Linked DNA regions of Homo sapiens. The protein of the gene in region 1 interacts with the protein of each later gene in a pairwise test. Each region holds a gene or a part of one and is shown on either strand. Other genes may lie near its edges.

Region 1 (2,530 bases):
CTGAGTTCAGTCCTGTCCGTCTCCAGCAGACACCGGCTTCCCAGGGGTGGGAGGCTCCCCTGAGTTCAGTCCTGTCTGTCTCCAGCAGACGCCGGCTCCCTGGGGGCGGGAGGCTCCGGGCCTCCCCAGAGGTGTTTCCATTCTGCTCCCATGTGGCCTCTTCATTTTGTCGTTGTCCCCTCCTCATATACACTCTCTTTCATTTTTAAACCATAATTACTGTAGACAAATTTAAAATACAAAAATGTTAAAAAGCAGCAAGAACAATCTTAATCTTTTTTTTTTTTTTTTGAGACCGTCCTGCTCTGTCCCCCCGGCTGGAGGGCAGTGGTGCAGTCACGTCTCACTGCAGCCTCAACCTCCTGGGCTCAAGCGATCCTCCCGCCTCGGCCTCCCAAAGTGTGAGCCGTGCATTCAGCCCAACCTTAATCTTCTCACCCAGAGCCACCAACATTAATATTTTGGCCGCCTTTTCTTCCAGTCTTCCCTTTTTTTTTTAAATAAGCTTTTATTTATTTTTCCTTTTCTTTTTTTAATAGTTGAGGTGGATTTTTTACCACCGTAACCTCATACACAAAGTACCACCATACTGTAGACCCTTCTAGGTCATGGCGATGTTCTCTGCGCCACCAGCCACACGTGGCCCCGAGTGTGTGGAACGCTTCTGGTGCAGCTGTGGCTCTGACGTTCGTTGAAATAGCCGCTGTGGCCCCTGGCTGTCCACTCTGGGCCTCTCCTGCTGCCTGGAGTGTGTGGTGCAGCCTTGGTCCCCACCTGCGCTCTGACAGCCTTCATGTCTGTCCCCTTCCAGCTGCTCCCGGTGTGACCGCGTCCTTCCCTGGCCGACCCGAAGGAAGCCTTCTGGTTGTCTGCCACTTCCTCCTGTTGGACTGCCTGAGAGAGGGGAAGAGAGAGACCTCGGACCTGCATGTCAAGATGGATTTTCCCCTTTTATCTCTGCCCTCCTCCACTCCCTTTTTGTAACTCCCTTACAGCCCCCAGACCCTTCTTGAAACGAGAGCCAGCAAGCTGAGCACAGACCAGCAGCGACCTCCCTTCCAGCCCCCAGAAAGCTCGGTCACTTGAGTGTTTTCTAGAATCCTGGGGTGCTCCCGGGCCGCTCTCAGAGAAGTGGCAGGTTTCACGTTCAGCCGTGTGGCGGATCGTGTGGCTTCCAAAGCCTTTTACAGCCCCCGCCCCCCATCCCGTGGTCTGTCTGCAGGAACTCTCCCGTCTGTGAGAAGCCTCTTTCCGAGTCGACCTCCCGGCCACCCCGGCCCTGTGCCTGCTCGGAAGAGCTCACTGCCAGCTGCGGCCTGGGCACCGCGGGCCATGTGTGTTTGCATGAGGAACTCTTTAGTGGCAGACACCTAAGAGACGGCTGCGGTCACCCCACGCCTCCGCGGCTCAGGAGCCGTCCTGGGTGCATAGGACCAGTTTCTGTGACTTTTCTCCAGTTGGGCATGTTGACAGACATGTTTCCCCTCCTCCCACCCTCATTTTCTGGTCCTCGCGACTGAGAGCCAGGGGCGACATCATGACCTTCTGTCCCGGCCGCCTTAGCCCCGGGCACAGGGAAGGCAGCTGGGCCGTTTCTGTCTGTGTCCCATCCTGCTGTCCTTCTGTCCTGGATGTTTCATGGGCCCGGGGCCCCCCAGGGAAGCTTACCCCTCCTGTGCTGGGTGGAGGCCACGGGACACCTCAGGTGCCACCCACCTTGGCCCTAAAACAGCCACCAGGAAAGCAGCCGGAGAGCCGGACAGCAGGCAGCCTGTCTGGGTTCCTGAGGCCTGGGGGTGGCAGACGAGCCCACGGCGCCGTGGTCCCAGCAGCAGGGTTGTCAGTCGGAGCATCCTGGGGCTCCCTGGCTCCTGGCCGTCTGTGAGGTAGGCGCAGTACCGTGTATCGTAGGTAGCAGTAGGAACGGGGGCCGCCGCGGCCCTGCAGCCGCTCATGGCGGTGAGGTGTGTGCCAAGCCCACCCGGGGTGCAGGGCGTGACGTGTGGGGAATAAATAGGCGTTGTGACCTCTGTCTGTCTTCGTGTTGACCTTGGCGCCACCGATACCCTCCAACCCCAAACCTCGAGAAAACCCCCGACGCGGAGTTTGTGGATCAGCTGGGCTGCTTGTGAGTGAATCCCCGCGACGCCGGAGCCGCACTTCTTGGGTCACGGGTCACGGGTCATGGGAGGTTTCGGACAGTCAGCCTCTACCCTCTGCTGTCTCCCTTCCCTCCGCCTCCGTCCCCAGCTGCATCCCGGTGTAGAGGGTCACCCCAGGGTGGGGTGAGATGCCTCGGTCCTCAGCAGAGAGTGATCGTATTGTCTGTTGCTTTGCTTTGCTTTTTTTTTTTTTTTGAGACTTTCACCCTAGATGCCCAGGCTGGAGTGCAATGGCGCAATCTCGGCTCACCTCAACCTCCACCTCCCGGGTTCAAGTGATTCTCCTGCGTCAGCCTTCCAAGTAGCTGGGATTACAGGCATGCACCACCACGCCCAGCTAATTTTTTGTATTTGTAGTAGAGACGAGG
Region 2 (3,500 bases), on another chromosome or scaffold:
CATAACAACCTTAATATTTCTTTGACCTAAAATTTTGTTTCTTTTCCTTCTTCTAATTATAAAAGAAATGAAAATTATTTAAAACATTTTCATGGGCCTTTCGAAGCATTGTGGGCCCAGGGCACTGTGCCTGTTGTGCCTAGTGCATAAGTCAGCCCTATTCGAAGTAGGGCAGAGTGGAACTGTGCCTTGTGGGCTTTGCCCACCGTGCCAGGTAAAGCTCATCTCTTGCCACCAAATGATCACACCAGCTACCGCCTAGGTTGTCCTCACCCTGTATTAGACACTTAGCATTTTTCTTTATTTTATTTTAAAAATAATTTTTTGTAGAAATAAGGTCTTACTGTGTTGCCCAGTCTGGTCTCAAACTCCTGGCCTCAGGTGATCCTCCCATCTCAGCCTCCCAAAGCAGCATTTTTCATTGCACTTATTCCTCACCACAACCCAATGAAACAAGTTTTAGTCTCATTTTACGGAAGGAAAAACTGAAGTTCAGGGGAGTTAAGGAATTTTCTTTTCTTTTTTTTTTTTTGAGATGGAATTTCCCACTTGTCACCCAGGCTGGAGTGTAGTGGTGCAATCTCGGCTAACTGCAACCTCTGCCTCCCGGGTTCAAGCAATTTTCCTGCCTCAGCCTCCCGAGTAGCTGGGACTATAGGCGCCCACCACTATGCCCAGCTAATTTTTGTATTTTTAGTAGAGACAGGGTTTCACCATGTTGGCCAGACTGGTCTCGAACTTCTGATCTCAAGTGATTCACTCACCCCGACCTCCCAAAGTGCCGGGATTACAGGCATGAGTCACCGTTAAATTTTCAAAGATTAAAAAAATTTCCCAAGGTCACACAGCTAGTAATGGCAGAGGCAGGATTTTGCGCCAAGTCTGATTTACTGCAAGCCTGTGTTCTTTCTGTCATGGTGTACTGCTCCCAAGGTCTCACTCCACCCAACTGGCTGGTGCACATGAAAGAGAAGGCAGAAGAAAGGGGGCCGAGTCCCAGGGTGGCTTCCCATGGAAAGAACTCGGGGAGCCGCCCTCTGCTGGGCAGGTCTAGAGCAAATAAGTAGGCTGGCAGACTTAGGTGGCAAAAGATCTGATGCCTCAGTGATAAGAGATTTAGCTCAAGCTGGGAACAAGGACCACAAAGAAGCCAGCCAGTATCTGGGTTAACAAAAAAAAGAGTAAGTGAACAGAATAGATCTTGAAGGTCATTTGCTATTGGTTAGGACTTGGGTGGGGCCTTCAATCTTATGAACCTGAGCAGGGAAGGTTTGGAAAGACTGTAGTGCTATTTAATAATTATTCCTTTGTTTGGACAAAAAAATGGGGTAGAAACGGGAGAGAATGGGGGAAAAGCTATAAGCCATTTCCTCCTTTTATGCCAGCTTTCCTGAACTTAGTTTATTTTGTTGTTGTTTGTCCTTTTTTTCTTTTTTTGAGACAGGGCCTCAGTTTCACCCAGGCTGTAGAGCAGTGGCTCAATCACAGCTCACTGCAGCCTCAACCTTCCCAGACTCAGGTGATCCTCCCACCTCAGCCTCCCAAGTAGCTGGGATCACAGGTGCGTGCCACCATGCCCAGTTAATTTTTGTATTTTTTGTAGAGACAGGGTTTTGCCATGTTGCCCAGGTTGGTCTTGAACTCCTGGACTCAAGTGATCCTCTGGCCTCAGCCTCCCAAATTGCTGGGATTATAGGTGTAAGCCACCTTGCCAAGCATGTTCTTTTATTTGAAAGGTAATACATGCCCCTCAGAGAACAGCTTTCTAGACCTTTTCTATGTACAAACATATATATGCATATTTATAGGGTTTTTTAAAGTTACTTAAAAAAAAATACACAGAGAGACAGGGGTCTCGCTATGTTGCCCAGGCTGGACTCAAACTTCTGGCCTCAAGCAATCCTCCCACCTCAGCCTCCAAAAGTGCTGGGATTATGGGTGTAAGCCACTGCACTCTGCCAATTTACTTTTTTTTTTTTTTTTAAACAAAGATGCAGTCCTACTACATATACCACCTGGCAGTTTGCTTTTTTCATCTAACCATGTATCCTGTCCCAGTAATATTGTAGATCTCATATTCGTTTTAGCAACTGTTTCCACAATGGATGGCCTGTAATTTATTTCATCATTCCTCTCCAGATAGACATTCTAAGTATGTCTGGATTTTTTATTTTAAAATTTGATTTTAATGAGAATTCTAATAGAACACTTTCCATTTATAAAAATTCAAAAATTAAGGCTGAGAGGGGTTCTGATGCTCAGCTAGTTCAACTAACCATTCTGTCCTAGAATTCTCTCTCCAAGATGCTACGTAGCTTTTGTCCAGTTTTGCTCTTCCTTCTGTTGGGGAGACATCTGTCTTTCCCAGTTTCTGCTGTTAGTTCTCTTGTACAGGTCATGCCTTGGCATATTAGAAGACAGAATTCAAGCTCTAGGCTCCCTTTTTTTTCTCTGGGCTTTCTCTTGCAAGCTTTCCTTATCTGACATGGTTTGCCTGCTCACTTCAAAATTGTGACACCCAGGCCGGGTGTGGTGGCTCATGCCTGTAATCCCAGCACTTTGGGAGGCCGAGGTGGGCAAATCACAAGGTCAAGAGTTCGAGACCAGCCTGGCCAACATGGTGAAACCCTGTGTTTACTAAAAATACAAAAAATTAGCTGGGCATAGTGGCGGGTGCCTGTAATCCCAGCTACTTGGGAGGCTGAGGCAGGAGAATCGCTTGAACCTGGGAGGCGGAGGTTGCAGTGAGCCAAGATTGAGCCACTGCACTCCAGCCCAGGTGACAGAGTGAGACTCCGTCTCAGAAAAAAAAAAAAAAAAAAATTAAGGCTGGGCACGGTGGCTCACACCTGTAATTCTAGCACTTTGGGAGGCCAAGGTAGGTGTATCACGAGATCAGGAGTTCGAGACCAGCCTGACCAACATGGTGAAACCCCCTCTCTACTAAAAATACTGTAATCCCAGCACTTTGGGAGGCTGAGGCGGGTGGATCACGAAGTCAGGAGATCGAGACCATCCTGGCTAACATGGTGAAACCCCGTCTCTACTAAAAATACAAAAAAATCAGCTGGGCGTGGTGGTGGGCGCCTGTAGTCCCAGCTACTCGGGAGGCTGAGGCAGGAGAATCGCTTGAACCCAGGAGGCAGAGGTTGCAGTGAGCCGAGATCACGCCGCTGCACTCCAGCCTGGGCCAGAGAATGAGACTCCGTCTCAAAAAAAAAAAAAAAAAAAAAAAATTGGCCGGGCGCGGTGGCTCACGCCTGTAATCCCAGCATTTTGGGAGGCCAAGACGGGTGGATCACGAGGTCAGGAGATTGAGACCATCCTGGCTAACACGGTGAAACCCTGTCTCTACTAAAAAAATACAAAAAATTAGCCGGGCGTGGTGGCGGGCACCTGTAGTCCCAACTACTCAGGAGGCTGAGGCAGGAGAATGGCGTGAACCTGGGAGGCGGAGCTTGCAGTGAGCCGAGATTCTGCCACTGCACTCCAGCCTGGGT
Region 3 (3,500 bases), on another chromosome or scaffold:
GCATGCTTCAGAAGGGATGTGTTTTATAATTGCATAAGGGCAAGATTTATGGCATGTAGATAACGTTAAGGTTGTTTAGACCTGAGGGTGAGATTTATGGTAAGTATGTGCTCTTATACATGCAACAGTAGATGAAATAGAAATCTTAGAGGCATTTCCAGAGCTGGGATTAATCAGAAGTTAATACAGTGAAATAATAACTAAGACGGAATTTCTTTAGCCTTCAAAACTGTGCAGTTGGGGTGGACATAAAATGGGACAGTGAAAGCATCTCAGAACAGAAAGTTGGGGAGGGGACACCTGGGTACCCAGGGCAGGGTGTCCAGTGGGGAGTTATATTTTTTCACTCGAATTAAGAATTGTCAGCATGTGGTGATAATAAAAGCAGACCAACTTGTAGTAGGTTTTATTATTGCTGCTCATTCTCTACAGACTGTGCAGCCTTCATTGCCTGTACATGGGTTGGGCTTGCCCACTACTCTTCCCTTGTATGCCATTGAAGAATGACAAATTCAGGATCATGGCTTAGCTTAAAGCACTGAGTAGGGGCTTTGTATGTGCTAGGGAAAAGAGGCTACCTGTCCACCAGACTCACAATCGACATGGAAATTTTTTTAATGTCCATTTTTATGAGTGGAACCCAGGGAATTCTGTTATTTGAGACTCTTTAGGGAAAAGGTATTAATGGATTCTTTCCTTCCTCATAAGGAATTATAAATTTCTTGATTTGAAAGGTACAGAAACAAAAGCCTTCATCTTTTTCTCAAAGTCATTTTCTTTCTGGATAATTTGGAGGATCAGTTGAGTGTTCTCAAGGGTTCTCCTTTCTTCAATAATTCACCCTAGTCATGGAGAGGTGAGACCCTGAATAACACTTTACTAATGAAGTTTTGGTTGGGGCAAAATATTTTAAATATTTCAAAAACAAAACTGTGACAAGTAGGTGGATGCTTAGAAACATGATTTAAATTGATAACATCCTGGAGACCCTCATGTGATATCCCCCAACATTATACCCCAGATTCTTGCCTGACCCTAATCTCTTAATTTATACACCTTTTATGAGTAGGAACGCTGTGGTACTGAGATATAAGCAACGACTTCCTAAGTGACGTTGTGTTGAGTGGATTTGTTTGCCTTTCAGTTGTGAATAAGAGCTACATTTTATGATGTCATGTGGTTCTGGCAGACTGACAGTTTTCACAGGGTAATGCTCCCTGGTGTAGGGTGACTCATGGGAAAATCCTAGGCAGACAGCATTAACAAGCTATAAGCTGCCAAGGTCCTTTGGGGCAGGAACATGAGAGCAGTGCTAGACCCAGTACCTTGAAATTTCTTTCCATTTTCACCTGTTTATCTTTTCTTCAAATCGCTGATGTTTCTCTACCAAGATGGACACCCTTACCTGTGGTCTCCATATAATATCTTTCAGCTTCCTCTGACCCAGAGATCTTCAGATATCTCCTCCTCTCTCTAAGCATCCTCAGGTTCTTCTTAATTTATGCCTAGTGTTCCATTATTGGAATGCTAATCATGTAGAAGTTATTTATATCTTACTGCTCAAGGTCATCACCAAAGTCTGAATGCAAAAATTCGAAAAGTTCAACCTCAGGTATAAATGGGTTAACTCTTCAAATGCACTAGCATCCTCTCTCCTTCAAAGCAATCTTCCATCAGGATTCTTGCTACTTCATTTAGATATGTGTTTTTCTCTCCCTTCTTTCACTGGCACACTTCCAGAAAGAAAGGTCTGCATTTGAATCTTGCCTCCTGCAGACTCCCAAACCTCTTGTATCTATTGGTTCCCAATTTTTCTTCCCAAGATTACTAGCAATTGTCTGATCGTGGAAGCCAACATTTCTCTGTCTCCTGCCTTATTGTCAGCTTTTAGCTCTGCCAACTTCATTATACTCTTCTGAGTCTATAGAACTCCTGGACTTTAGGTTGATTTTGCTATTTTTGCTCTTGGCATCTGCATTGTGGGTTCATGAGGCTTCTCTTCAGCTTCGTGACTTTTCACATTCTTCATTCTTTTTCTTGGAGAGCTCATTCACTCCCAGGACAGCAGCCATGCCTCCAAGAAGGTGACTCCTAGATCTACATCTGTACAATTTTCCTGAGTTTTGGAAGTACTCTTGGCTAGAGATATTTATCTAAAAATAACTGTCATCATCTCAATTATTATACATGTGAAACTACCATTTGTTTGTATGCTATTTTAGTCTGCTTGGGCTACTATAACAGAATATCATAAACTAGGTAGCTTATACATAACAGAAATTTATTGCTTACAGTTCTGGAGGCTGGGAACTCCAAGATCAAAGTGTCAGCACACATTTGCTGTCTGGTGAGGGCACACTTTTTATTTCGTAGATCATGCCTTCTAGCTATATCTTCTATGGTATAAGGGGAAAGGCAGCTTTCTGGGCCTCTTTTATAAGGGCACTAATACCATTCAAAAGTGCTCTCCCCTCATGATCTAATCACCTCCCAAAGGCCCCACCCTCTAAGACCATCTGATATTGTTTGGATTTGTGTCCCTGCCCAAATCTCATGTTGAATGATAAGAGGGGCCTGGTGGGAGGTGATTGGATCATGGGGGTAGATTTCCCCTTTGCTATTCTCATGATAGTGTGTGAATTCTCATGAGATCTGATGGTTTAAAAGTGTGTGGCTCTTTGTTGTTTGCTCTTTCTCTCTCTCTCCTGCTCCCCCATGGTAAGACATGCTTGTTTCCCCTGAGCCTTCTGCTATAATTGTAAGTTTCCTGAGGGCTCCCATCCTTGCTTCCTGTTAAGCCCGCAGAACTGTAAGACAATTAAACCTCTTTTCTTCATAAATTGCCCAGTCTCAGGTAGTTCTTTATAGCAGTGTGAGAATGGACTAATACACGCTCACATTGGTGGTTAGATTTCAACATATGCATTTTTCGGGGAGACACAAACATTCAGACCATAACATATCCTTCATCCCAATTTGTTCATCTTTTCCCCATTCACTCACCCTTTATATAAGACCAAGTTTATTTTAGTTCTGCTACTATCCAATTGTGTAACTTTAGGCAAACTTGTCAAGCCTCTGGGCCTGTTTTCCCATTTATAAAATGTAAAGGATTTCGGAATCTGAGTCTATAAATATACCTTGACCCTAATACATGCTAATTCATTGACCTGAACAAATTATGCATTTTCTCTAAGCCTCAGTGTCTTCATTTAAAAATGAAAACAACAATATTTAACTCATTGGGTTAATGTGAGGATTATGTGAGGAAAATATATTCATAAGGTGCATAGTAGAATGTTTGCACGTCATACTTAATACAGTAGCTATTATTCTTCCTGTTCCTGGGCTTGATATCTTGGAAACCTTTTTGATTTCTTCTTTCTCATATCTAGATAATGGCCAAATCTTACCAGTTATTCCTTGGTAGTGTCTTGATAGCAACTTTCCCACTTACTACAAGGCACCATGCAGGATACTTTATGCATGTTGGTTTTCAT
Region 4 (2,612 bases), on another chromosome or scaffold:
AAGAAAAGTCTAAGAAACTGTCATAGACCAGAGGAGTCTAAGGAGATGTGACAAGTGAATGTAATGTGATATCTTGGATAGTATCCTGGAACAGAAAAAGGATATCCGAAAAACTCATGAAATCCAAATAAAGAAGTTGAGTTCATAGTAATTGTCCACATGGTTTCATTATTGTCACAAGTGTGCCATAGTAATGTAAGATGTTAACAATTGGAGAAAGTGTGGGTCCATAGGAACTCTATTAGGAACTTTTCCATAAATCTAAAACCATTCTAAAATTATTTAAAAAAATCTGTACAGGCCACTTAACCATGTGAAAAGCTACTCAGCCTTGCTGATAATGAGAAGTGGCACTGAGATACTATCTCACCTGTCAGGTTGGCAAAAATCCAAACAGTGACAATATATTCTGTGGACGAGGCTGTGGGGCAAGGTATCCTTGAACATTTATGGGGGTTTAATCTATTTTGCGTTGCTGTAAACGAAGACCCGAGGCTGGGTAATTTATACAGAAAAAGGTTTATTTGGCTCACAGTTCTGATGGCTGGGCATCAAGATTGGGCATCTGCACCTGGTAAGGGCCTGGGGCAGCTTCCACTCAATGGCTGAAGGCAGAAAGTGGGCTGGAGTGTGCAGAGATGACACAGATGAAGTGAGAGCGGGTAGGTGCCAGGCTCTTTAACAACCAGCTCTGGGGGGACTAAGAGAACTCACTCACTGTCCCCACCTCGGGGGACAATATAATAAATATATTAAATATATCAGGATGATTTACATGCACTGCCCTGATATATTTAATAGCACAGGAATATACACAAGAGAGTGACAGATTTGAATGGTCCCAAATGCAGCTGCAATGCTAGCCCACCCTTTTATGGGAAAACTGATTCTGACAGTTTTCCAGACTGTGCACACATTTAAAATTCCACACCCTTGCTTCAGCCAGCTTCCTCCTGGAAGGCAAAGCCAGCCAGGTGAGTGTTTATGAAGGCCCAACTGACCCATCAGCCCAGAAGCCAGGCCCTCCCAGTGCCAATGGTCGCAAGCTGGGGGCAAGTGCTTGGGGAGTGGGCCAGTTGGCATCCGAAACAGGGCCTGGTGGAGCAGCATGGGAGCAACTGGTAGTAGTAAAAGGAAAGAAACAGCTGAGTCTGTTTTTAACATTCATTAATCCAAAAATACATAAAAATTATTTCTGCTCCAGGTTCTTGGACTCTCAAGAAGGGGGTAGCTGCCAGCCTTGAGCATCTGATATGATACCTAAGTGCTCACTCATATTATCTCAGAGGACAGGGAGATGAGGAAGTGAGTCTCAAACCAGGGAAATCAGGGCCATGCCCTGCAGAGGCCCTGTGGGGGGACTTGGCCCACAACACTCTGGCTTTTGTTGCCAGAGGAAATGGGGCAATCACAAGAGTGGGCCACCCTTAGGCAATTCCTCCTATACAGCTAGGCCCCAGGGTTGGGAGAGTTCTTTCCCTGCTCATGGCTGAATTTCCCGAGAGCCAGGCTGACCAGACCAGAGACAGCCCAGGAGAGAAAGGCCCGGGAAGGCAGGGGCTCGGGCCTTTCTCCCTCTCCTTCTTGGCCCAAATCCACTTCCAGGAAACCCAGAGGTAGGACCCTGCAGCCAGCCAGGTGCTCATCGGGGCTGTCACATCTCCACATCAGTCCGCACCGCCACCCAGGAAGCCAGGGCCAGTCACCGTCTGCAGCCTTGTTATTGCATGCCAGCTGGGTGCATAGGCCAGGGCCCCTGGCCAACACCAAGGCCTGCTCCAGGAGGGGCCTGGGCCACAGGCTGCAACCGCTGCTGGGACTGCCAGATGTGATGGAGCTCCTTGAATTGCTCCACCATGCGGTCTTTGAGGTCTGGGTTTGAGATCTGTAGCCGGATACTATCAGCTGACCAAGATAGCTCCCCTGAGAACATCTCCAGCAGCAGTCGAGCTGCTACAGGCACCACCTGGGAGGCAAAGAGGAGATGAGACAGGGAGACCTGTGGCAGGGCTGCCAGATCCAGCTGTGCATGAGGACAGCCATCAGGGGTGAGTAATAGACCGCATTCTCCGGCTCTGAGCCTTGATGGTCTCTGGCCGCCAAGTTCACACTGCTCAGGGAGCCCTGAGCCTCCAGCCTGGGGCAAGGGCCTAGCCCCAGGATTCCCCAGTTTTCAAGCCAAGGCCGACTTTGGGATAGGGGAGATGTACCTGTACAGTAATGAGCTTCTTCTCTCGGGGTTTGCGGTCAGGCCATTCTTCCCCAAAGCAGAAGAAGATCTCGAAGGGTGGTGGGGTGTTGGTCTGGCCCTTTTGGAACAGGATGAGCTCTGCATCAAAATCAAGGTCCCTAGTCAGAGGCTGGAACCATGCCCTGGGCAAGAGGCAGCCAGGAGGATCACAGCTTTGGGCCCTCACCATTGAGAAAATGCTCCAGGCTGAAAAGCTTGGTCTTGACCTCCCGCTGGATGGGGTTGGGGCATGAGTCATGGGCTGAGGCACAAGGCCCGCTCCAGAACACCTTGCACTGACACAGGCGGATGGCATAAAGGTCCTGGCCCTGTAGCTGGAGGATGAGCCCGCGGTCCAGGACATCCAGCAGCTGGTTCGTGT
Region 5 (3,500 bases), on another chromosome or scaffold:
TCTGAGTAGCTTCTAACCAGCACATAACTCCCCCAACAGTCTTTAAGTCTTTAGGTGCCCATATTTTCCTCTTTGTTCTCCCCCTTCAGACTGAGAGTTTGTAGAGAGAGGGCAACAGATCTTTTCAATACACAACTAATGCAAAATGTATCAGGTTTTTCTTGGATTTCAGCTACTCCCTGTTAAACAATCAGAGCTTAGTGAACAGTGATTCAGTGAGGAGGGAAAGCACTCAGGAAGGAGCAGGAACAAGTACAAGTTTATGAAAAGGATTAGCTAGCAAAACAAGGTCAAACTCTGCAATAGTTTGTTTTCCTCTCCCTAGTATCCCTCTTCAATCAGAAAAGAGACTGTTATCAGTTGCTGGTGTTATGACTGGGCACATCCGCCCTGGGTCAAATATGCTGCAGTCTGCAAAGCCAGCAGCAGATTGCAGTCCTCTGCAGTCCAGCCAGGCCAGCAGAACTTGTGTAGCCATGTGCCCTGTTATAGCTGTAATACTGAATTGGGAATGTTCCCTTAATGGGGCACTTGAGGGCAAAAGCAGTGAAAGCTTTTCCTTTCTCAAAGCAGACTGTTCTTCCCGTAGTGTTTTAAGAACACAGACATGTATTGGGCAAGGCAAAGCCAAAGGTGGCCTTTACAAGATTATTAAATCTGGTCTTCCAGGGTATCTAATCTGTGTGAGGACCCTGATGAACTAATTTTCTTCTAAAGTGCTATATATGTAGATATCATCATAGAGTTACACATGAAATGGCTCATTCAATACTTTTTTAGATGCCTGGAAATATTTAAGGGAGTAACTAATCAATTAGCAGCATTCCTGGGAGAACATTGTCTTGTCATTTTAACAGAAAACTCTCTTTGTGATTTTGCAGCCACGACAGCCCAACCCTGACTGGCGTTACTCTGCCTCCCTGAGAGCAGGCATGCACAGGTATGTATTTCCCTCCTCATTCACTCAGAAGTAACCTTAACTTGGTATGGCTCAGATAAACTGCATCTCCATAGGCCAGAAGCAGCTGTCAAAACTAAAAAGCTTTAGGTACTTTGCCAGGAAAATGCAATTATTTTGTCCCCATGTTTATTCCTTGAAAGATCGCAAATGGTCAGTGCCAGATGCTTATCAAGTGCTGGCATATAAGAGTCCTCTGTAAAATCACAGAAACAGGCTGCTATGTATTTTCTCCCATCAAAATTTCTACAGGGAAGTAATTTCAACCTCCTTCATCCCTCTCTACCTATGCTTTCTTTTCCTCCTTTAAAAACTGTAATTAATACTCATGCTTTGAGACTTGGGTACATTGTGCAATGTATACATACATGTTGTCTACCTTGTTTTTTTTTTAATCTCACATTGGCTATTACATCCTATTACCCTCAATAATTGATTGCTATTGTTGTTTGTGTTCACACCTATTAGAGCCTCCTCATCTTTCCCATCTGTTGCTATCTTATTGTCATCAATGACATGGTTCTTCAGAAGATGAGCCATGTAAAGGGCTCCAAATCTAGCTTACTTTAAATTAACCTAGAGTAACGGTATTAGTCTAAGACTCAGATTAAATATAATTTTGCTTTCTCTACTTTGTCTCTCTGACAGTAATTGATTAACTACCATTATTTCTGGAGGTGATCCAGTATCCATGCCATGGGGCCAAATAAAAGATTCATTATTTGCGAATGTCTTTGGAAACCAAATGGGAAGGACCAAGAAACAAATGATCACAACTATCAAAAGGATTTAATTTTAAAGAAGAAATAATCTTCAAACTTAAGCCCCTCAAAATATCTGGGCAACTATCAAGTGAATATTCACCAAACTTAGATCAGTTCGTAAAGAGAAAGCCTACAAAGTATGTGTAGAGTTAATGTGAAATTAGTTTTAGCCCATTAAAATGCATTAGATTGAAATAAATTAACATACTCTCAAGCATTACAAATGAGCAGAAATCATTACATTGGGTGCTATTTCTGATTCAGAAGCAATCAGTGAAGGGCTGAAGATTAGTAGTTGGCTTGGTAAGATGTCACATTGGAACCTGGGTCATAATTTTAGGCCAGAAACATTCATGCATATACCAGAATATTAGGTATCAGAAGAAATTCTTTATATTTATTAGAGACCAACTTGTGCTTTTGCCTGCATCTGAGCTGTTGGTGGAGACATGCAATGGGTAAAAGCATGGTTTACAGTACCAACTCTTGAAAAGTACCAAAGCTATGAGTTGTGCCTTAAAAACTACATTTGAAATAAAACATTAAAACATAACTTCCTGGACTGGGCGCGGTGGCTCACACCTGTAATCCCAGCACTTTGGGAGGCCGAGGTGGGCAGATCATGAGGTCAAGAGATCGAGACCATCCTGGACAACACGGTGAAACCCTGTCTCTACTAAAAATACAAAAATTAGCTGGGCGTGATGGCATGTGCCTGTAGTTCCAGCTACTAGGGAGGCTGAGGCAGGAGAATCGCTTGAACCCGGGAGGCGGAAGTTGCAGTGAGCCAAGATCGAGCCACTGCACTCCAGCCTGGCGACAGTGCGAGACTCTGTCTCAGAAGAATAAATAAATGAATAAAATAACATAACTTCCTTATCCCATTTTCAAATTGAAAAAAAAAAGCCAAATGTGCTCCTATTCGGGTTTCAATTAAGATATTATGAGATTTGAGTAGGGTAAGAAATAAAATAAAAATTGAAATTAAAATGCCATTTCTTTTTTGCATTGTAATACATTGAACATATTAAATGAGTTGTGAACCTAAATAATACTAATCTTTTTCGTATGTGTGCTTGGGTGTTCTCGGTCTTTCCAGTCTTGGACATCATGTAACTATTCTTTAAAAAATTCTGCTTTGAGCTGAGCTGGCTCCAGGATAGTTACACCTTCATGAATCTGACTGAGCCCACACAATTTGCTAGTAGGATCCAGGAACACTTGAAGGCTGTTAATATTTGGGGAAAAAAAACAGATAATTCTAGAGTGTAGACAAGGGGAAGAATAGTAAAAGGTCAGAGTTTAATGAGTGAATTTCTACTGGATATGTTGTTTGAAGTCAAAGAGTGAGAAAACATTGAACTTATATGTTGCCTTCCCTCTAATAGTTCAAGTTTGCCTGCTCTGTTGCCTCATATAACCCCTTTAGTCAGTAGTCTAAATTTTATTTTAGAAATTTAACTTTCAAGATAAGCAAATGTCTAGTTTAAAAGGGTCCTCTAGTCTAGGTGTAGTGGCTCATGCCTGTAATCCCAGCACTTTGGGAGGGTGAGGCAGGTGGATCACTTGAGGTCAGGAGTTCAAGACCAGCCTGGTCAATATGGTGAAAACCTGTCTCTACTAAAAATACAAAAATGAGCCAGGCATGGTGGCGGGTGCCTGTAGTCCCAGCTACTTGGGAGGCTGAGGCAGGAGAATTGCTTGAACCTGGGAGGCAGAGGTTGCAGTGAGCTGAGATCGTGCCACTGTACTCCAGCCTGAGTGACAGAGTGAGGCTT
Region 6 (4,009 bases), on another chromosome or scaffold:
CACACCTGTCATCCCAACGATTTAGGAGACCGCGGTGGGAGGATCGCTTGAGCCCCGAAATTTGAAACCAGCTTGGGCAACATAGCAAGACCTCCATATCTACAAAAAAATAAAATATTAGCCAGGCGTGGTGGTGCGCGCCCGTAGCCCCAGCTACTCGGGAGGCTGAGGCGGGAGGATTGCTTGAGCCTAGGAGGTGGAGGCTGCAGCGAGCCTGATGTTGTCACTGCCCTCCAGCCTGGTGAGAGTGAGACCTTGTCTCAAAAGAAAAAAAAAAAAAAGCAACCCAGAGTTGTGGGAAAGAACTGAGTGTCATTCTCAATGTTTTTAACCTACGTGCTAACCGCGCACCTTCTACCTAGGCTGCGCGACCTCCGCGCCCGGATCCATGGCGCCCCCTCTTCTCGACTCCCGATGCAGAGCTCCGATGCAGAGCTCAGCGCCAGCCACTCACAAGGAGCCTGGCAAGTTTTATCGAATTGGTGAACGAAGTTCGAAAGCTCTACCCTTGGAGATCCTTATTCAGTAGGTCTGAGGTAGACCTAGGAAACGCGCATTTTATATAAATCCTACCTCTGACGGCAAACGACAAGGGGTTCACGTGCCAGCTCTCCTCGGCGACGCGCTAGGCTACTCAGCGCCCCGAGCCTCGGCCTCGCATCGCTAGAACCCGGCCATGGCCGCTTCCTTACAGGGCAGCTGTGAGGAGTCCTGAGGAATTTTAGTACACGGCATATCCTCAGCGTAGTGGCTAGCACATCACAAGGCTTTAATCTTAACACTGTTGATCTTAACACTGCAACTGAGGGGGCCCGGAGAATGGGCCTGACAGGAGGGTCTGTCGGAACCTGAGGGACTGGGGATCCCGGTGCGGAGAAGCGCGAAGGGAAATCGCGTTGAGCAGCTGGGGTGGGTGCGCCTGGGGGCGTGGCCTGCGGGCCGGCGGGCGGGCGGGAGCCTGCGGTGGAGGCGTGGCACGAGGGAGGGGCGAAACCGGGTGGCGCGGAGGGGGCGTGGCGTTGGGAGGGGCGGGGGGAGTGGGCGGGGCCGAGATGGGGGCGTGCGCGCTGACAGGAGCGCCGGGGGAGTGAGAGACGCCTCCTGGCGGGAGCTGGCGGCTGTGGACCCCAGCGGGGGCGGAGGGGAAGAGGGGAGCAGGGGCGGGGAGCAAGGAGCCGGGAGGAGGGCGGCGGGCGGGCCTGTCTCTTTAAGGTGCCCGAGGCTCGCGGGCGCTGCGCTGAGGGGACGGCGGGAGGCGCGGCCTGGCCTCGCACTCAAAGCCGCCGCAGCGCGCCCCGGGCTCGGCCGACCCGGCGGGGATCTAGGGGTGGGCGACTTCGCGGGACCGTGGCGCATGGTGAGTGGGAGCGGCTGGGGGGTTGTGCAGCCTCTTGGCCTCTTGGTTGGGAAGGGGCCGGGCGCCGAGCTCGGCCCTCTAGAGGCCCGGGGCCGCGGCGAGCTTCGCGGGGGCCGGGAGAAGCCTGGGCCCGGCTGCGCGGAGGACAAAGTGGGGGTGCTGGGCGCGGGCGCACAGGCCGGACGCCGGGAGCCAGCAGCATCTCTGCGCCGCTTTGGTCCAGACCATCTCTGGGCCGGCCCGCGTCCTCCGCAGCCCGCGTCGGCCGAGCCGGGGTGGGGGTGGTTCCGGGTGCCCGGTCCCCCACACCGCTACCGGCCTCTGCCTCGCGGGGCGTCCGGCGCCTTCGGGGCCCTGGCACCGCTCTACAGAGGCTCGGCTCTGCCCTGGTCGCTGTCAGTGCCATCTCCCTTAACGAGAAACTTGGGCGTGATGTATGCGAAACAATTTTGATGCATGATGGTTTCTAACTCCTTAGGAAAAGATAAGTCCTTTAATTCTATTACCTGATTTCGACATGGTCGTAGTTACTTGAATACTTTTTCCAGTGAAATTTGGGGAGTAAGATGAATTTGTGGAACATTTCATAAGACAACCGTAAAAGATGGGAAAGGGGGGAAATCCCAGTTTTCATGGTTGTAGGATGAAAACTAGTTCCACGACAGTTAGTCTCCAAATAACCTTATTTGGCCTCCGCAAATATGTACTGGTTGCTCCAGAAATCATCCTACTTGGTATGCGGCGTTAGATACATTAGAAAATTAGTTACTAACGGTCTTTAGGGAATGCTTTGTGAGCCTCAGTAACGATCACCAGGGTTTTCTCTTTCAAAATTGACTCATACCAGGTCCAAAGCCCTTTATTCTTTTCACCCTTTTATTATTTTTCCTTTAATGTACTTTGTAACACTTAGAATAAAAGTTTAGAGTAATCATAAATGCCCCCATAAACTCACTATTTATCCCTCTTACGTCAGTAGTCATTTATTTTAATTTATTATGTTTGATAGGGAGGTGTTTTAACCTGAAGAAATGATATCTTCCCGTATTTAAAGTTTAATAACTGTATACTGTTTGGCCCCTGTCAGACTGTGTTTGTGCTAGTCTTTTTTCCTTCTTCTTTTTGAACTGTAGTATCTTCTTAATAACTTTGAAGAATGTGTGGTACTAATAGAATTAAAAGAATATCTTGGCCGGGCGCGGTAGCTCACCCCTGTAATCCCACACTTTGGGAGGCCGAGGCGGGTGGATCACCTGAGGTCAGGAGATCGAGACCAGCCTGGCCAATATGGTGAAACCCCGTCTCTACTAAAAATACAAAAATTAGCGGGGCGTGGTGATAGGCTCCTGTGATCCCAGCTACTCGGGAGGCTGAGACAGGAGAATCGCATGAACCCGGGAGGCGGAGGTTGCAGTGAGCCGAGATTGCGCCACTGCACTCCAGCCTGGGCGACAGAGCGAGACAACGTCTAAAAGAAAAAAAAAAAAAAGAATATCGTCACATTCTAATAATTACCTAGAGTTTTTAATGCAATTAGTAATTAAACAGCCTTTTGTTATTTGCTCAATTATTTAAGAAGTGACTCTGTGGACTCTACTTCTTGCTTTGAGCTGCTTTATTCTGTCTAAATAAGCCTGAATAATTTCCATTTAAAATTTTGTTTTGATTCTAAGAATTAAAATTAAATATCTTAAAATTATAATACAATATTAATAGTTTTATATGGGCTTACAGTTGAATAATGGACCTAAAATTAAAGTTGAATAGTAGCAGTGCAGTATTGAAGCTAGTTATTTGCCTGATATACTCTCAAGTTACTGAGGGTTTAGATATACTCACTCTACTTTCACAGTCACCATTTCTGGATAGTCTGAGGAACTGTAGAGTTCTAGGTCCTTGAAGATGGCTATGAAGCCATTATTATACAAAATTATTGTTTATTTTTGAATGTTTATATAATCTTTCATTGAGAATGATCTTTAAATGATCACTCAAAAGTTTTTTGAAGGCCAGGCATGGTGGTATTGTCTGTAGTCCCAGATAACTGGGAGGCTGAGGTGGGAGGATCACTTGAACCCAGGAATTGAAGGCTGCAGTGAGCTATGATCACACCACTGTACTTCAGCCTGGGCAACAGAGCAAGACTCTAAAAAAGAAAGAAAAAGTATATTGACACAAACAATGAGTCTTAGTTTATGTTTTGTTTCTCATTTTTATATTTGTTTTTACCCTAGCACTTGCCTTTGAATTAAAGTTGTGTTTGTTTGTTTAGTTTCCTGGGAGTTACTGATCATCTTCTTTGAAGAAACATGAAGTTACACTATGTTGCTGTGCTTACTCTAGCCATCCTGATGTTCCTGACATGGCTTCCAGAATCACTGAGCTGTAACAAAGCACTCTGTGCTAGTGATGTGAGCAAATGCCTCATTCAGGTAGGACTAAGAGTACTTTTATTAATATCAAAATATATTGTAGAGCAGAAACATTATGTTTATATACAGATATAGAGTGCATATATCATATAGAGTAAGACCTGAGTATTGGGTCAGGGCCTGAGGTACTGAATCATGACACACAGGTCTGGATTTTTACCCTCATAGCAATCAATATATATAGGCAAGGTTAGATTCAAGAAGTTCAATACTGAGTATA
Region 7 (4,002 bases), on another chromosome or scaffold:
CCCCAATAGGTTATGGGTGTCATGACTATAAGATATGTCATACGCTTACAAATCCATTCAGCTAATTCTTCATAAAATTATATTTTAAATGTAATTTAAATCTTATCCATGGTGTAAAGTTCTGATTTCCTGGATGGCTGATGTTTATTCCCCTTACAGCACTATGGTAAAATATAAGGACGGCACATGTTTTGTGGTTTGTCCTTATAATGTCATTTAAAATGGAGGTTTTTGTAATGCAGGAAAACAAATACATGAAGTCCAATCCATCTACAGCCATACCACCCTGAATGCACCCAGTCTTGTCTGAAGTCCAATCCTAGTTGCTGTTAATGTTGTCAAAAATAACTCTTGTCTTCCTGAACTCCAACATAGTTGTCATTTATTCTTTTTTATTTTTAATTTATGTTTTGTAAAAATATAAAATTTACAGAAAAGTTGCAAGATTATTATAATCAACTCATATGCTTTTCACCTAGATTAACTAATGTTTAGAGTTTTGCCACATTGATTTCATACCCACTATTCTATTATATAGCCATATTCTCTTGGATAACCCCTGTATGTTTATTAAATTTGGGGAATTCAACAATGAAAAATGCAGTTGTTTAATATATAGCTTATATTCAAATTTCCCCAGTTGTCCTAATAATTTCCCTTATAGTTTTTTTTCTGATTCCAGGATCATGCATTACATATAGTTGTCAATCCTATTTAATCTTTTTTAATCTGGACCAGTTCTTCACTCTTTCTTCGTCTTTCATGACACTGGTATTTTTTAAGAGAATGGACCAGTTGTTTTGCAGAGCGTTCATCAGTATAGGCTGTATTTTTAAATACTTTTTTTTCACTCAACACTTATTCACAGTGACTCATGCCATGCAATATGTAGGCTTTAGGGATGTAAATACTAATGAAAGAGATGATTTCAGCCTTGAGCTCACAATCTAGTTAGACAGACTCAAATGAATCACTAATTTGAAATGATAAGTACAATAACATATACCTACAGAGGGTTCAACTAATCTGTCTGGGGCAGTTGTGGGAAAAGAAAAGGGTGATAATATTTGGAAAATTTTGTTTTCTTTTTCTGGTAAGAGTCCTGAAATAATGTTCTTGAAATTCTTATGCATTGCGTGTATTACCACACTAGCCTATAGGCTTTTATTTCATAACATTGAGGGAGTGAATATTATCATTCTTTTATTTATATTTTATGTTTTACAACTTAAATTGGTAATGTTTTTTATTTTTAAGTGCTAGGCCTGGCAGCCTATCTCTGGGAACTGACTCGGTCAAAGACTGGGGGTGAACGTGGAGATGGTCCTAATGTCAAGGGAGAATTTCTGCCAAATCTGGAGCCTGTTAAAATACCAGAAGCAGGTAAGTTATTCATTAAAAATGCAAATTATGGGGTTTCTGTTTTCAAAAATACTATATATTTTATAATATAGAGGTACCACTACTGCTAATATAATTTAACAGAGTTCATATATAAAGATTCTTTGAAAGATAGTTCAGTCCCCAAAAGCCTGACTAATAAACAAGCACCATCATAGATCCTACCACATTGGGTCAAAGCCACATTCAATTATAAAATGTGAAGGTATTTTCTTACTTTTTAGTATCAGTTCCTAAACCAACAGCTAGTAATATCAGATACTTTTATAAAGGTCTGCTTTTAATAAATACCTAATGAATTTGTAACAGATATTCACTGTATGAAACATGCTGAGGCAATTAAGTAGGCTCTAATCCAAGCTCTAACAAAATTTCACTGACTTTGGGCAAATTCCTTATCTTCTAAACCCATATTTGCTCTTATAAAAATGGGTCAAAATCAAATATATTAAAATTTGAGTAATCAACTTAAGTACGTTTTACACATGTTTTTTCCAAACTTCTAGGCATTAGTTATATGAGCTTCTGAATTTAATATAAACACTTAGTGTTTAGGAAAGAAATTATCTTGCATTAGTCTACTGCTTTTGCTCTACATTCCTGATCCATTCCATTAGAATATTTAGATTAAAAATATTTTTCAGGCTATGTTCAGGAACCTATTCAACATATACTCATAGGAAGATCATTGCTTTAAATACATGTTATTAAAAAATAAAAATATAAAATTATATGAGCATTCAATATAAAAAATAAGAAAAAGGCACAAGATAAACATAAGGGAGAAGGAAAAATATACTTAATAAAAGACAGGTATAAGTCTTTATTTAAGGGAAATAATTCAACTAGTAAATAAAAGAGATTTTCAACATATCTATGAATAGAGGATCCCCTAGTTTACATAATGTTGAAGAAAATGGGCAAAGCTCAAGTATACACAATAAAAAATAGGAACAAGACAGGACAGATATTGAATGTGTAATATAATTAAAAGTGGATACATTCTTGAGCTCTAAACAATTTTCAAAATTTGATGCAATGTTTGATATGCTAGCAAAACATAAAATCATTTACTATACCACAGTAGTAAATGAATATTTAAACATCATAACATGGATGAACTTTTAAAACTTGCCAGAATTTTCCATCAAAAGTATTTATCATTTAGAAACAAAAAAAAAAGCTATTGTTTGTTTATTTGTATTTGGCTTTTCTAGATTCCTCAGTCTCTTCTCTTTCTCTCTCTCCTCCTCTCCCTCTCCTTCTGATCCCCGTTTTGCCAAATTGTGAGAATCATTACTATTTCTTTTTAACACTTCATCTATAATAATAATGGCTTGCAACCAGTGTGACGATATAATTTATTGGACAAACTGGAATATTTTTAACTGTGCAAAGAGGCATTATTGATAATTATACTAGAACCACAGGTGAAAACAGAGACAAATGGTTAACCTACTTAAAACAACCATATAAAGAGTAAACTAATCAAAAACATTTTAGCATTTTCCCATAACAGAAACAAAACAAATATAATACTAGCCTTTCTATTTATGCCACTTAAGCACTTTCAAATGTGTCATTACTGTTTGAGCTATCCTATATTCAAAACATTATTTCAAATTTCTTTTGTTTCCTAAGTTTTATGTTTGCTTATGTTTGGTTAGTTGGATTTTTTTTTTCTAAAATTACATGCAGTTTTTAGTTTCTAGTTAAAACTTTCTTTAAATAGGTTCATTTGATCAAATCATTTCGAACTCAAACTCTTTCTTATACACTAGAAAAATGAGTGGGATTTTAAAATATTGTTAATATACCTGAAAGCCTACCTTCAAAGTCTCTATAGCGGTTTAACTGGATATAAGCCAGAGGGTTACCTTGTTATAGTTCATTTCATAAAACCAAAACTATGCCTTTTTTCAACCCGTAGTGTCATCATAAAAAGTTCTGCTAAAAAATACTCTCAACTATTATGTTTATCTTATAGGTGAAGGGCAACCATCGGTTTAAATGAAGACAAGCTGAAACCATACATGCAGTCTTTATGTTGGAAACTTCACCAGTAAAATTCTCTCAATAAAGTTTCACAATTGTCTGCAAAGAAGTCTTGTGCAACTTATGTCAAACTAGGAATAATTAGGTGTTTCATGCTATTGAAAATTGTATCTTTTTTGAAAATTTATATTTTGTTTGAGCTGGTATATAGAGATATAATTTTATGTATTGATTTTTCTCTCCAGAAACCTTGCTAAATATGCTTATTAATTCCAAAAGTTTCTCTCTAGGTCCTTTTTGATTGTCAACATATACAATCATGCCATCTGTGAGTAATAATACTTTTCAGTCTGCCTTTTAAAGTATGTTACTCTTCATTTCCTTAATTCATTTTATGACATTGGACAGACTCATCCAGTACAATGTGGAATTGAACTGGTGATAGTGGACACCCTCATCTTATTCCTGATAAGAAATGGAAAATATTCAACATTTTACCATGATTTACTGTAGATTTTACTTGCAGATATGCTTTATCAGAAGTTCCTTCTATTTCTAGTTTCCTGAGAGTATTCTTCTTGGATATATGTTGACTTTCATCGACTG

Evidence for each region.
Region 2: the proteins of SGTA (region 1) and SMAGP interact in binary tests that used the Homo sapiens proteins (3 or more experiments, as listed by UniProt).
Region 3: the proteins of SGTA (region 1) and C3orf52 interact in binary tests that used the Homo sapiens proteins (3 or more experiments, as listed by UniProt).
Region 4: the proteins of SGTA (region 1) and IRF5 interact in binary tests that used the Homo sapiens proteins (3 or more experiments, as listed by UniProt).
Region 5: the proteins of SGTA (region 1) and PCDHA4 interact in binary tests that used the Homo sapiens proteins (3 or more experiments, as listed by UniProt).
Region 6: the proteins of SGTA (region 1) and TWSG1 interact in binary tests that used the Homo sapiens proteins (3 or more experiments, as listed by UniProt).
Region 7: the proteins of SGTA (region 1) and PAGE3 interact in binary tests that used the Homo sapiens proteins (3 or more experiments, as listed by UniProt).

Annotation. Positions count from the first base shown.
Region 1 is NC_000019.10:2,754,215-2,756,744, reverse strand, and holds the end of SGTA (small glutamine-rich tetratricopeptide repeat-containing protein alpha), read left to right. Parts: intron 1-811; 3' UTR 812-2,030; downstream 2,031-2,530. UniProt on the Homo sapiens protein: Co-chaperone that binds misfolded and hydrophobic patches-containing client proteins in the cytosol. Mediates their targeting to the endoplasmic reticulum but also regulates their sorting to the proteasome when targeting fails.
Region 2 is NC_000012.12:51,260,416-51,263,915, reverse strand, and holds part of SMAGP (small cell adhesion glycoprotein), read left to right. Parts: intron 1-3,500. UniProt on the Homo sapiens protein: May play a role in epithelial cell-cell contacts. May play a role in tumor invasiveness and metastasis formation.
Region 3 is NC_000003.12:112,096,389-112,099,888, forward strand, and holds part of C3orf52 (TPA-induced transmembrane protein), read left to right. Parts: intron 1-3,500. UniProt on the Homo sapiens protein: Has a role in LIPH-mediated synthesis of 2-acyl lysophosphatidic acid (LPA). LPA is a bioactive lipid mediator involved in different biological processes, and necessary to promote hair formation and growth.
Region 4 is NC_000007.14:128,947,927-128,950,538, reverse strand, and holds the end of IRF5 (interferon regulatory factor 5), read right to left. Parts: coding exon 2,418-2,612; intron 2,330-2,417; coding exon 2,211-2,329; intron 1,967-2,210; coding exon 1,721-1,966; 3' UTR 501-1,720; downstream 1-500. UniProt on the Homo sapiens protein: Transcription factor that plays a critical role in innate immunity by activating expression of type I interferon (IFN) IFNA and INFB and inflammatory cytokines downstream of endolysosomal toll-like receptors TLR7, TLR8 and TLR9.
Region 5 is NC_000005.10:140,978,068-140,981,567, forward strand, and holds part of PCDHA4 (protocadherin alpha-4 isoform 1 precursor), read left to right. Parts: intron 1-881; coding exon 882-940; intron 941-3,500. Other genes in the region: PCDHA1 (protocadherin alpha-1 isoform 1 precursor), read left to right, coding at 882-940; PCDHA2 (protocadherin alpha-2 isoform 1 precursor), read left to right, coding at 882-940; PCDHA3 (protocadherin alpha-3 isoform 1 precursor), read left to right, coding at 882-940; PCDHA5 (protocadherin alpha-5 isoform 1 precursor), read left to right, coding at 882-940; PCDHA6 (protocadherin alpha-6 isoform 1 precursor), read left to right, coding at 882-940; PCDHA7 (protocadherin alpha-7 isoform 1 precursor), read left to right, coding at 882-940; PCDHA8 (protocadherin alpha-8 isoform 1 precursor), read left to right, coding at 882-940; PCDHA9 (protocadherin alpha-9 isoform 1 precursor), read left to right, coding at 882-940; PCDHA10 (protocadherin alpha-10 isoform 1 precursor), read left to right, coding at 882-940; PCDHA11 (protocadherin alpha-11 isoform 1 precursor), read left to right, coding at 882-940; and 4 more. UniProt on the Homo sapiens protein: Calcium-dependent cell-adhesion protein involved in cells self-recognition and non-self discrimination. Thereby, it is involved in the establishment and maintenance of specific neuronal connections in the brain.
Region 6 is NC_000018.10:9,333,564-9,337,572, forward strand, and holds the start of TWSG1 (twisted gastrulation protein homolog 1 precursor), read left to right. Parts: upstream 1-1,209; 5' UTR 1,210-1,357; intron 1,358-3,629; 5' UTR 3,630-3,666; coding exon 3,667-3,789; intron 3,790-4,009. UniProt on the Homo sapiens protein: May be involved in dorsoventral axis formation. Seems to antagonize BMP signaling by forming ternary complexes with CHRD and BMPs, thereby preventing BMPs from binding to their receptors.
Region 7 is NC_000023.11:55,257,915-55,261,916, reverse strand, and holds the end of PAGE3 (P antigen family member 3), read left to right. Parts: intron 1-1,257; coding exon 1,258-1,383; intron 1,384-3,388; coding exon 3,389-3,411; 3' UTR 3,412-3,502; downstream 3,503-4,002.